Linked DNA regions of Homo sapiens. The gene in region 2 interacts genetically with the main gene of each other region. Each region holds a gene or a part of one and is shown on either strand. Other genes may lie near its edges. The genes, in order: TSPO, MAPK8IP1 and ITGA6.

What was found.
Region 1: changes in MAPK8IP1 (region 2) and TSPO together harm fitness less than expected from each alone (positive genetic interaction), as found in Homo sapiens cells (one large-scale study listed by BioGRID).
Region 3: changes in MAPK8IP1 (region 2) and ITGA6 together harm fitness less than expected from each alone (positive genetic interaction), as found in Homo sapiens cells (one large-scale study listed by BioGRID).

Annotation. Positions count from the first base shown.
Region 1 is NC_000022.11:43,149,983-43,154,419, reverse strand, and holds the start of TSPO (translocator protein), read right to left. Parts: upstream 2,862-4,437; 5' UTR 2,816-2,861; exon of another isoform or gene 1-2,815. UniProt on the Homo sapiens protein: Can bind protoporphyrin IX and may play a role in the transport of porphyrins and heme. Promotes the transport of cholesterol across mitochondrial membranes and may play a role in lipid metabolism, but its precise physiological role is controversial.
Region 2 is NC_000011.10:45,884,303-45,888,458, reverse strand, and holds the start of MAPK8IP1 (C-Jun-amino-terminal kinase-interacting protein 1), read right to left. Parts: upstream 2,809-4,156; 5' UTR 2,639-2,808; coding exon 2,538-2,638; intron 1-2,537. UniProt on the Homo sapiens protein: The JNK-interacting protein (JIP) group of scaffold proteins selectively mediates JNK signaling by aggregating specific components of the MAPK cascade to form a functional JNK signaling module. Required for JNK activation in response to excitotoxic stress.
Region 3 is NC_000002.12:172,500,574-172,503,903, reverse strand, and holds part of ITGA6 (integrin alpha-6 isoform b preproprotein), read right to left. Parts: intron 2,133-3,330; coding exon 2,025-2,132; 3' UTR 2,003-2,024; intron 597-2,002; exon of another isoform or gene 1-596. UniProt on the Homo sapiens protein: Integrin alpha-6/beta-1 (ITGA6:ITGB1) is a receptor for laminin on platelets. Integrin alpha-6/beta-1 (ITGA6:ITGB1) is present in oocytes and is involved in sperm-egg fusion.

The DNA.
Region 1 (4,437 bases), on a different chromosome or scaffold from region 2:
GCCACTGCACTCCAGCCTGGGCAACAGAGCAAGACTCTGTCTCAAAATAAATAAATAAATAAATAAAGCAAACAAAAAAAAAGAAGGCGACCCAGAAACACAATAAGGAATGTGTCCCTTCTCTGATCCCCACCCCGACCCCCAGCTGCACCCACTCCCCTGAGCCTTGTCTCTCCAACGAAGCCAGCACTGTCCCAGGGACTTGTTTTCAGGCTTTTTAAAAATGATTCATGGCTAATCGTCCTCATCGTAACCTTTGTGTGCATTTTTCATTACAAAAGTAACCAGTGAAACAGCCCACAGGTCTGGAAAAATCCACAGCGAACCTGGCCATCGAGTGGCCTGGGAGAGGGTAGGGTGAGGGTGGGGTATCCAGGGGGAATTGGTTCTGTTAAGAAAGACTACTTCCCTTTCCTTCGAGGTTCGGGGGTTAAACTTTTTTTTAGTAAAAAATAAAGAAACAGCCTGGCCGACATGGTGAAACCCATCTCTACTAAAAATATAAAAATTAGCCAGGCTGAGGCAGGAGAATCACTTCAACTCTGGAGGCGGAGGTTGCAGTGAGCCCAGCTGGAGCCACTGCACTCCAGCCTGGGCAATGGAGCGAGACACCGTCTCAAAAAATATATATATAAATAAAAATAAGAAATTAAGAATGACTTCCCTAGTGGTCTAGTGGTTAAAAAAAAAAATAAAAAAGACTACCGTTTTAAACAGAGAGCACATCCAAGCATTGTTTGCACCATCAAAAGTAAAGAAAACACAAATAAGCCGGGCGCGGTGGCTCACGCCTGTAATCCCAGCACTTTGGGAGGCCGAGGCGGGTGGATCATGAGGTCAGGAGATCGAGACCATCCTGGCTAACAAGGTGAAACCCCGTCTCTACTAAAAATACAAAAAATTAGCCGGGCGCGGTGGCAGGCGCCTGTAGTCCCAGCTACTCGGGAGGCTGAGGCAGGAGAATGGCGTGAACCCGGGAAGCGGAGCTTGCAGTGAGCCGAGATTGCGCCACTGCAGTCCGCAGTCCGGCCTGGGCGACAGAGCGAGACTCCGTCTCAAAAAAAAAAAAAAAAAAAAAAAAAAGAAAACACAAATAAGCCAGGAACAGTGGCTCATGCCTGTAATCCCAGCACTTTGGGAGGCTGAGGTGGGAGGATCGCTTGAGCCCAGGAGTTCTGCAGGAGACTGCAGTGAGCTATGATTGCATCACTGCACTCCAGCCTGCATACCAGAGTGAGACCCTGTCTCAAACAAACAAACAAAAACAAGAAAGGAAGGAAGGAAGGGGAAGAAAGAAAAAAAGAGAAAGAGAAAGGAAAGAAGGAAGGAAGGAAAGAAAGAAAGAAAGAGAAAGAAGAAAGAGAAAGAAGGGGTGGGAAGGGGAGGGGAGGGAGGGAGGAAGGAAGGACGGAAGAAAGGAAGAAAGCAAGCTAAAGTGAAAAGTAGGCTCCCTCCCTGCGAGCCCAAGCCCCTCACCCCAGCTGGAGAACCCGCTGTGAATACTTTCTGGTAGATCCAGCCAGACATCCTGCCTCACGCCAGGCACAAGTGTGTACAGACGACAGGACACAGCACATGTGCACACACACACTCCCAGGAAAGAAAGTGGTCCTCGGGGCACAGTGGAGAAGGCAGGCTGGGATCAGCCTGCACGGGTTCTGGCCCTGGCTCCACCGCGCCAGCTGCGTGACTCTGGACAAAGGCTTCTTTGGCAAGCCTCAGTTTCGCCGAACCTCCCTGTGGGGCTGCCAGCAGCCAGGTGGAGACTCAGGGGCCGCCTTCCCCTGCTGGGCTGAGGCTGGCTCTCCTGTCCTTGCCACACGGCCCCTTTCACCGCCAGTGGAAACCTGCCTCAGGCTGCCCTGTCCCGGGCCCCACCGACTCCACAGAGACGCCGGGCCTCGCCCACTGTTCTGGCAGTAGGCCTTCATGGGCAGGGCTTGCTGTGTGCCAGGCAAGCTGGGCGGCTGCTTCCTGTACACCACCTCCCCTGATATCCTCGCCCTGCCTGAGCCCATTCTGGGACAGCCTCAAGTCCTGTCTCTCCTGCCATCCAGCCCAGGGCACGCTGCTGGTATCCCGTAGCCCTGGCCCCTGGCAGGCTGGCCAGAGGGGCTCCAGGCCCACGCCAGGCCATGGCCTCTGGCAGCTGCCCTGGCCAGCAGCGCGTTCACAGCAGGAAGCCCCCGCTTCTCCTACCTGGGCTCCGGCTTCTTTGCAAGGGGTAGGGGAAGCAGACAGGTCCCAGAGGCTGCTCGGCTCACAGTAAGACCCGTCTAGGCTGCAACGCACCTGAGCCCCGCACTGGGAATCGAGGGCCAGGGGGCCTCTAACCGGCTTTGGGCAAAATAAACTTCCCCGATCTGGACTGTTCTCCACTACGAAACGGGGTGTCTCGGAGATCAAGAGCCCGAGGTCTCCCAGATATTCTGAGACCCTCAAGGGAGTTCCGCCTGGGATTGCCCATCCGCGGAATGGGCAGGAGAGGGAGCGTCGGCCACTCCTGGGACCGCGCTTCCTGCAGGAGAAGCCACGCGGCCAAGGGCTGGGCGTGGCAGGGTTGTCCAAGTTTTCCCTCCCGAACCCCCAGCCGGAGGCGGCCCGCGCTGGAACCCCGGCCGCGGAGGCCCAGACTCTGCTGCCCGCCGCCCCCTGACCCGGTAGCCGAGCCCCAAGTGCTGCCCCGGGTCGCCCCCTCGGGTGTCCAGTCTGCGGCTCCGGCCTCAGTTTCCCTCTGTCCCGCGGCGCTGCCAAGAGTCGCAGCCATGCGGGCCCCCACTTCCCGCTGCCCCCTCCGCGTCCCGTCCTCACTCACCAGCGGCGAGGGCACGCTCCGGGAAGGGCACTGCCTGGCAGGAGTTAGCCAGGCCGCTGTCCCCGCATCCGCCCCGCCCCTCCCAGCCGCCAGGCCCCGCCCCTCTCAGTCGCCCGGCCCCGCCCCGCCCCGCCTGGCAGCCCGGGCACTGGGCCCACTCGCGTCCCCGCGGGACCGGGAGCTCACTCCTCAAAGCCACCTCTCCCGCGGGACGCGCTTCTGCCTCCCCCCGGCCGCGAGCAAGTCTCTCGGCTCCTCCTCCTCCCCATGGTGACCGGTGACGGCCGCCCGGCCAGACCCAACATCTAAAACGTTGCCGTGTGTCCAACGGCGTGTCGTTTGTCGTCTCTTCTAGCCTCACTTTTCCCATCTATAAAATGCAGCAACAAGACCGATCTCCGAGTGGGGAATTACCTCTCCTGAGGCCAAGGCCCTGAGCGTCCTGCTGCCCAGCAGCCTTGGCCCCATTTCCGGAGCACCCCAGTTCCTTGAGCTGTTGACGCAGGGCACGGAGGCAGCGCGCTGCACTCTTAGTCCTGGCCCAGCCACTTTCTGACTGGCTCTCTGGGCCTCCATCTCCTCATCTGTAAAATGGGCACAAAGTCGTGGGACTGATGAGGCCGCAACGCGGTGATGCAGGCAGGACACCCCTCAGATGCTCGGCGCTCAGTGAGGGGAGGCTGCCATCATCACAGCCCAGAGGTGGCCTCCAGCTGCCCAGGTCCACTCCCATGCAGGGTGTGTCCAGCCCCAGGCCCTTGGCACTATGGCTGTCTTGCTGCAGTTCAAGGCTGTCCCAGCTCCCTCCAGACAACTCAGCCTGGCAACGCCCCATCAGCCTGAACCAGCCACGTTGGCCCAAACTGATCCTGCAGGGTCCAAGGAGAACTGTGGCTACTTCTACCCAGACACAGAAGCCAGGAGCCTCCTTGGGGACCAGCCAGGCTGCAGTATGGCTTTCCTAGGACCTGGCATTTTTGCCTTTGTGAGCCTCTTCCTCTATTAAAAAACAAACATACATAAATCTATTTTTTACTGTGTTGGCCTGAAGACAAGGATAACCCAGGCTTGGTTCCATTCTTCATTCATCTTTTTCTTCTGGGTTTCTTTTTTTTTTTTTTTGAGACGGAGTTTCGCTCTTGTCTCCTAGGCTAGAGTACAATGGCACAATCTCGGCTCACTGCAACCTCTGCCTCCTGGGTTCAAGTGATTCTCTCCTCCCTCAGCCTCCCGGTAGCTGGGATTACAGGCGCCTGCCACCATGCCCGGCTAATTTTTGTATTTTTAGTAGAGATGGGGTTTCACCATGTTGGCCAGGCTAGTCTCGAACTCCTGACCTGAAGTGATCCACTGCCTCGGCCTCCTAAAGTGCTAGGATTACAGGCGTGAGCCACCGCACCTGGCAGCTTTGTTTTTTTTTTTTTTTTTCTTTTTTAAAATTCCTTCTGGCCAGGCACGGTGGCTCATGCCTGTAATCCCAGCACTTTGGGAGGCCGAGGTGGGTGGATCACTAGGTCAGGAGTTCGAGACCAGCCTGGCCAACATGGTGAAACCCCATCTCTACTAAAAATACAAAAATTAGCTGGGCATGGTGGTGTGTGCCTGTAATCCCAGCTACTTGG
Region 2 (4,156 bases):
TACAAGCTCTGCCACTTACCTAACCTCCCTCTGCCTCAGTTTCTTCATGCAAGTGTGGATAATAACAACGCTCTGTTGATACAGTTATTGGGAGGAGTAAATACTCTTGCACATAGGAAACTCTTAGAATGGTGCCTGGGCGAACTGAGTGCCTTCCAAATGTCAGCGCTTACCACTGTTATTGAGTAACTATCCCGTGCTGAGCAATGGGGATACCAAAGTTTGGGTACAGACCCCCTTTATTTTCTGGGAGCTGACAGTGGCACTGGGGGTCAAGGCGCCTGTGTGTGTGTGCACACACACAGCCCTGCCTACAGGCGGCTCTCCTCAGCCCTTGAAACACTCAACACGTGTTATCTCATCTGATTCTTAGGACCATCCTGAGCAGGGGCCAGTGCTGGCATCTCAGAGGCTCAGAGGGCTTAAGTGCCCAGTGTCAGGGCACACAGGTAAGAAGGGCCAGCCAGGATTCAAACCCAGGCCAGTTGGATCTATGACTCCACCAAAGAGCCACAAGAAAGCACTATCTACCCACCCAGGGTTAAGTGGAGCCTGGCCAAGCACAGTGAGAGGCGGGCCAGGAGAAAGGGCAGCGGGGGCTTTGGGAGCAGCGGGGCAGGCCGGCAGGGCCTGAGACACTGACGCTTATTATTCCCACGCACTGGCCTTGTCTCCGCAGCCAGGCCACCATGTTCTGGAGTGCTGGCCCACACCTCAGCCTCGTGGCCTACTGCCACCCTTGTCCCACATGCCGCAGAGCTGGCCACACATTCACTGGCTGGTGTCTGCTTCCTCAGCTCCTCTCATTAAAGCATCTATGACACCTGGGGAAGCAGGTCGAGGAAGAAAAGCTGCCCACTGGGCCAGAGGCAGGGCTGGGACGTAGAGTGGACTAAACACGCACAGACCTGGGTCCCAGTGTAGCCTTAGTCTCTGACTCTTTTGTAGTCTCCAGATGAGCCACCCTGCCTTTGTTAATCTCAATCACCTCATCTATAAAATGGGCAGGTCACTACCCTCTCTTGGGGCAGTTATGAGGGTTAAAGGAGGGGCCTTGGGAAGACACTCTGGACAGCAGCGAGCCGTAGTGTTGTCTGCTAGTGTGGGGGCTGACACTTGTTGAACACTGACCTGATGTGCTTTTTCTCCTTTCCAGGCAAGAATCAATATTAATTAGCCCACTTAACAGATGGCACCCAGAGAGGACAAAAACCTGCCTGGGTCATGCAGTTAGAAAGTAGTGGAGCTAGGATTTGAACCCAGGTCCCTCTAAGCCCCATGTGCTTCCACTGCAGAGGCCTCCAGGTGGGGAGGCAGTATTTGCATGGAGGCCTCATGCACCATGCCAGGTGGAGTCTCAGACCTCAGTCTAAGGCATTATCAGAGAGCTGCAGCCCTGGAGCCTTCAGGCCTGGCCTCCTCCATCTGGCCCCCTCTGGTCCTTCCAGCTCAGCTCAGGGCCTCAGGGAAGGTTTCTGAGTTTGATGATGCTATTAGAGATCCCCAGGGGTCTCTGCCCACCTGAGGACCTGGGAGCCAGTGACCCCTTGCTCCCAGGAGGGGCTGGCACCACAGCCCAGCTGGAGCCTGGCTGGGGTGGTGCCCCAGGAGAGGGGAAGGCGCCAGTTCTCGAGATGGGGAAACAATGGGGTATGTCTAAGCCTCCCTCTCTAGGCCGGGAGCAGTGACTTCGGCCTCTTCCTCCCCACCAACTAGGGTTCAGAATTATGGGGGAGGTACATCTATTCCTCCTCCACACAACACTCACCCCTCACTTCTCTGAAATGCATCGGGCCTAACACCAGATTGGGGGGTGGGGGTGGTGGAATAGGAGCTCAGGTCAGGGTTCTGGGTATTTACCCCAGCAGGGATCCCCTCGACACCCTCGCTGGCCCTGGCTACTCCAGAGCCGAGCCGACTTCCCTTCCCGCAGCCGGGCCTAGGATTCCCCTGGTTGAGGCTGAGCCTTCAGCGCCTGCCCTGAGAGACACACCTGCCTAGGTCGGTGCTGCCCAATCCAGAGAGGGGCCCGGCCACGCCAGGCCTGGCAGGTAGGCCCATCTGGCCAGGCAGGGCTCGGGGAGGGGCTCAAACATCCTCCTCCCAGCACCAACAATGTCGTTGCCCCAGGAAACTGCGACCCGCGCCCCTCCAGGCTGTTCCCAGCTCTATTCACAGGCTAAGATGCAGCCTGCCTGCCCGCTCCGGGATCGCAACCCCGACCCCAGACCCTGCCGCAGCCCGGAGGTTGGGGAGAAGGAGGCCTCCGAGCCCCCTCCTCCAATTCCAGCGCAGACCTCCCAGCCTAGGACCAGGAATGGCGGAGGGAACAGCCTCGTGAACATGCAACGGCTACCAGTCCGGACTTGAGGCTGGCGGGGCTTCTGAGGGGGGCTCTGTCCCGGGAAGAGACCCCACTCCCACGCAGCCCTTTCGTTCCCGGGTTCCCGAGGTTCTGGGGTGGGGGGCGGGCAGGGCAGCCAATGCGGATCAGTCCCCGCTGAAGGGCGAGGCGCGCGGCGGCCGGGGACTCTCACCTGAAATTGGGAGGCGAAGCGATGTGCAGCCCCAGGAACGGGGAGGCGGCGGGCGGGGACGCGGCCCCCCCTCCCAGGCCGCCGCTTTCTCGCTCCGCCATTCTCGGGCACAGCCCTGGCCATCCGGGCGGAGCGCGGCGCGGAGGAGGCGGCGGCTGCGAAGGAGGCGGAGGCGCGGCGAGAGGGCAGCCGCCGCCGCGGAGTTCGGGCTAGGCGGGCGCACCTGTGTCTGGCAGGGCGCGGCACAGCACCGCGCACGGCCCGCGGGACTGGCGAGAGCGCCCCGCGCGCGCCCCCGGGACCCGGCCGGGGTCTCGCGCGCCCCGCCCAGGCCCCGCCCCCACCCCGCCAGCCCCGCCCCCGGAGATGGCGCTCTCCGCGGTGCTGAAGCCACGGCCCCCGCGGCCCTGGGCTTGGTTCAGCCCCGCCCTAAATCCGACATCGACTCTCCTCCACCCCGTGGCCGGTGTGGGCTTTGTCCCTCCGGTTGGGCTTAGTGCCCGGGTATCAGATGACTAATGGCAGGACACTGGACCCCAAGGTCCAGGTTGGCCCCCCGCAGCAGAGACCAAGAAGGCAGGCGGAAAAGGAGGGTCGTGGAGGAAGGCAGAGAAAGGAGAGGATGTCAGTGGGCTCTTAAAGTGTACAGGTTTGGAGTCAGGTGGTGTGAATTCACTGGCTCCACAAGTGACTGGGCAGTGGGGCCTTGCATTAGTGACTTCAGAGCACTAAGGTTTGGTCTTCTTATCTGTGAAATGGGACAATAGCAGTCCCTCTCATGGTTGTTGTGAGAATGTAACGTAACACAAATGTGTTGCCTGAGACCCAGAAACACTCCACCTCCTGCGCTGGGATCCAGCCCTCACCCCAGTCCTGTCCCTTTACCTTGAGGGGACCCTCCCAAAGACTCTCCCTAGAGGCTGTCTTCTCTAAAGATTGACCCAAATCTCTCTTCAGCCCCAAACAGCTACTCGTGGTGAATTGAGCCCTCCAGGCTTCTCGGTCTCTCGCCAGGACCTTCCCAGCATTCTCCTTCTTAGCGCCTCAACTGCATTTCCTGCAGAGCACCCCTCTTCTGCACCCACAGACACACATTCTAAGACTTGGCGCCTTTCCCTCTCCTCCCACTGTTGACTTCTTGGGATCATTTTGGTTGTTTCTGTTCCCTCTGGCACCTCCATCCCTGCTAGGCTTTGGCCATGGCTTCTTCCTCATTGTCTCTCCCTCGAGAGGGTGTTATTCCTGGGCTTCCAGGCCTTCAAGTCCCTGAGTTTCCCGATTGAGTTATTTCAGAGTACGGACTGCCAAGGCTAGGGCCTTAGCTTTGCTGGGTCGTAGAGCCTCTGGTCAAACCTCATTGGCTTCTCTGGTCTCTCGAGAGAACCCTAGAGACCCTGTCCACAGGGCAGAAAACGTGCAGAGCAAACTGTGCCACAACTCGTGGAGTCCTATTTGCAAATCTGGACTGCCGACCAGTCATGCTGGCCCCTTTCCTTCAGTGCGGCACCTAGCAAGGAGCTGGAGGCACCTTCCGTGCAGAAGGCAACCTCCGACCACCAGCCCTGAGAATATCCCAATACCTAGAGCCAAAGGTCATGGCTGCTTCTCTTTTCCCTGTC
Region 3 (3,330 bases), on a different chromosome or scaffold from region 2:
GAGAACAGCTGTAAAACTGGAAGAAAAGTCCATTTTCATCTTCTCTTTACATTTTATAACAAATGTAGGCTACCTCTTTACTAACAATTTAAGAGTTTATGAAAACAGTGCTTCCATATTTAAAAATAATCACAATATGATATGTAAAATATCTGATTATCAGATTAGATTAAGAATAATTTTTAAATGGCATAAACCAAAGATTATTTCATGCCCCTTTCCCACTAATAAAATGCAAATCATGTCACAAGTATTTTACAAATTACTATTTGAATATGCCAGTGTTCCAACAGGTCAACTTTATAATCTTTTTCTCTCCTCTGAGGCTCTAGTACACATATCACTTCTCTCATTAGCCAGGAGGTCATTTATGTTGCCTGGATTTGCTATTGTGCTTCTAATTAAGCTATTTCATTAATCACATAGTAACTGTTTCCTGCAATAAAAATCATGTGCTGCATAGGACTTCAGAAGTGCATCACTACACTGAATTTCAGAGCACTCCCTAATTTCTCTTCTTTTGCAAAAATACATTTACCTTTAAACTGTTAATGTGTGTGTTTATATATATATATAAAATTCATTTAAATAGTCAATCTGATCCAAAGTATATTTTTACTGAGAATATATCTGAAAAAATTTGAATTGAGATTAAATTTTTAAATGAAATATATTTACTTTTTTTAAAAAAAGGTGTTTTCAACTTTAAAATGCAGTTTAGAAGAATGAGGATATTGATAGAACTGTTAATGTGTTTATTGTGTGACGTCAATAGTAACAGGACATTTATGTTGAATGATGTTATGTTATAAAAATGCCATGGAGCAAGATAAAATTATATGTATAGTTATCACTAAATCAATAGGCAAAATGGACCAAGATGTTTTGTTCCAGGTCATTTCTACATGGATTCATTTATTATTCTGTGCAAAAAAAAAGAAAAAAAAGCCAAAGTACCTATCTATTACAAAATATGACTGCTGTCTACCCCATTTAAACAAAGAGGGAAATTAAGGGTAATATGTAAAGCTGAATGGCAATGTTGTGATTCACTGTGATAGTGCCATGGAAAGGATTACAGGAGTAATTCTGTCCTCTCATGCCCACGTAAATGGTGAAAGGGATCACTAGCAATTCCTATTTCCATGTATTTCCAAATAAGAGAAACTTGAATTTAAAATCAACTGAGATCCAAGGTTGGATAAAATCTCTGGATACATGAAATATGGTCAAACTCCATCACAACATATTGCAATAAAAACTGTTCAGGGTATTTTTTGTACTAGAATTTTGTAGATGGAAGGTAACTTTGGTAAGGGATCATCTTCTGAAGTTGGCCATAAAAGCCCATCATGCTGATAATCAGTTTGTTGTAATGGTCTTTGACCTGTAGGAGACATGCAGGAAATGGAAGTTGCATGCTTAGCTAGCATAAAACGATTCCTGAGCAACAGTAAAAAGCATTCCAAGCCTTCCCCATCACTTTATAGCAAAGAGAACAAAAAGATGACAGTGAGGAAGCCTCACCAAGAGAAACACAACATTTCCAACATGCAACAGGTTAATTAGGCGGTCGACACAGCTTCTATCTGTGGAAAATTCCAAAATGGACAAGAAATCTAGAATGATTTCTTATGCATCTTTGAATTCCCTAGTGGAATGCTACATACCGAATTAATAACACATTGCAAACTGGGCTACTATGGAGGGCTAAAAGTCTCTTTTTGTGTGTACAAATATTGCAAATTTTCTTCATTGCTGTGGTAGATATTTAACAAGAACATAAAATAACTCACCTGCAACGAAAGACTGTGCATTAAAAAAAACAAAAACTGAGCTTTCAAGTGAAATAAAATAAAACAAATCCAAGCAAGGCAAGCCAGTGTGGACATTTGGAAACATCTGTTAATGGGACACACATAGCAAGCTGTTGTTCTTAAAGTTAGCCACCACAACCATAGCGGGTCCCACAGCTAGCAATTAAAAAACATTGATCAATTACCAATTACAGAAGTAGATCAATACTATGCATCAGAAGTAAGCCTCTCTTTATCAGATGGCTGAGCATGGATCTCAGCCTTGTGATATGTGGCATCATAATGATCTTTCTTATTTCTCTTGAAGAAACCACACTACAAGGAAGCAAGGTATTTAGTCAATTTTACAGTTTTGTGTATAAGAGCCAAACAACAGAACATCTCAAATTTTAATCTGCCTTCTACTAGTGGCTTGTTTACAAACAGACCACTTTCAGTCAACCAACAATGAACAGCCACTGCATTGTTTCATTGTCATATTCAATACACCCTTCACCATACATCTCTGGTCAAATATTTATATGGATGACACTAGTCAGCTCATTGATTTTTCTCTTTGTAACAGAAATCTTGTGGACAAAAATCATTCTAATAGGGAAAACGTATATACATTGCTGATTGTAGCTTTGGGTAGTTTCTTCCTGCAGGAGAATATGAACTCCAAAAGAGGCAAAAGATTGACTTCGGCAGTTTATTGAGACAAAGGTTAGAAAATAAATTCTCTAAATAAAAGCACAAATCCAAATAAAATATAGATATACTATGGGTATTTTTCTGCCTTTTACAGTAAATTTTATGGAACAAATGCCATTTACTTGAGGCCTTTGGATCTGTGGGGTGAATCACAATACAAATTCGAATACACCATCATGAAAGAATGATTGCTGTCATTTTCCCAAACTCTGAGCACCATAAAACCCTTAAATGGTAGGGACCCAATGCTCCTCAGGTTAGGTCACTCTAAATGAGTATAAAAGTATAATTCCACTTTCTACTATAATTTCCTTCGTTCAGTGATAGAGAACTTTTCCTATTTACTTTTATCTAGTTCATAAGGCCATGGAACTGTCTTTTATAAAATTTAACCTGGTCAAATAAAATCTCCTGAAAAACTCTGATTCCTAGTCCAGCAACTCATGAAGGTAAAAGCCTAGATTCACTTTGTACAATATATGGGAGCTGCTGGCTCCGTGAGGCTATTCAGATTGAAATTAATTTAAATTACATTTAAAACTCTGTGCCTCAAGTGAACCAGCCATATTCCACGTGCCTAACCGCCACACATGACTAATGGCTACCATACTGGATGCTGCAGCTCCAGAACATTTCCATCAGTATAGAGTTTTGTTGGGCAGCTTTCAATAATATGTGCTAGTAAATAGGGTGGGAAGAAGAATAAACCAGGAGCCAAGAGGCCTGGTCCTGCCTCCAACTTGGCAACATTCTTTCCTTTTTTTGAGACAGAGTCTCACTCTGTTGCCCAGGCTGGAGTGCAGTGGCACGATCTTGGCTC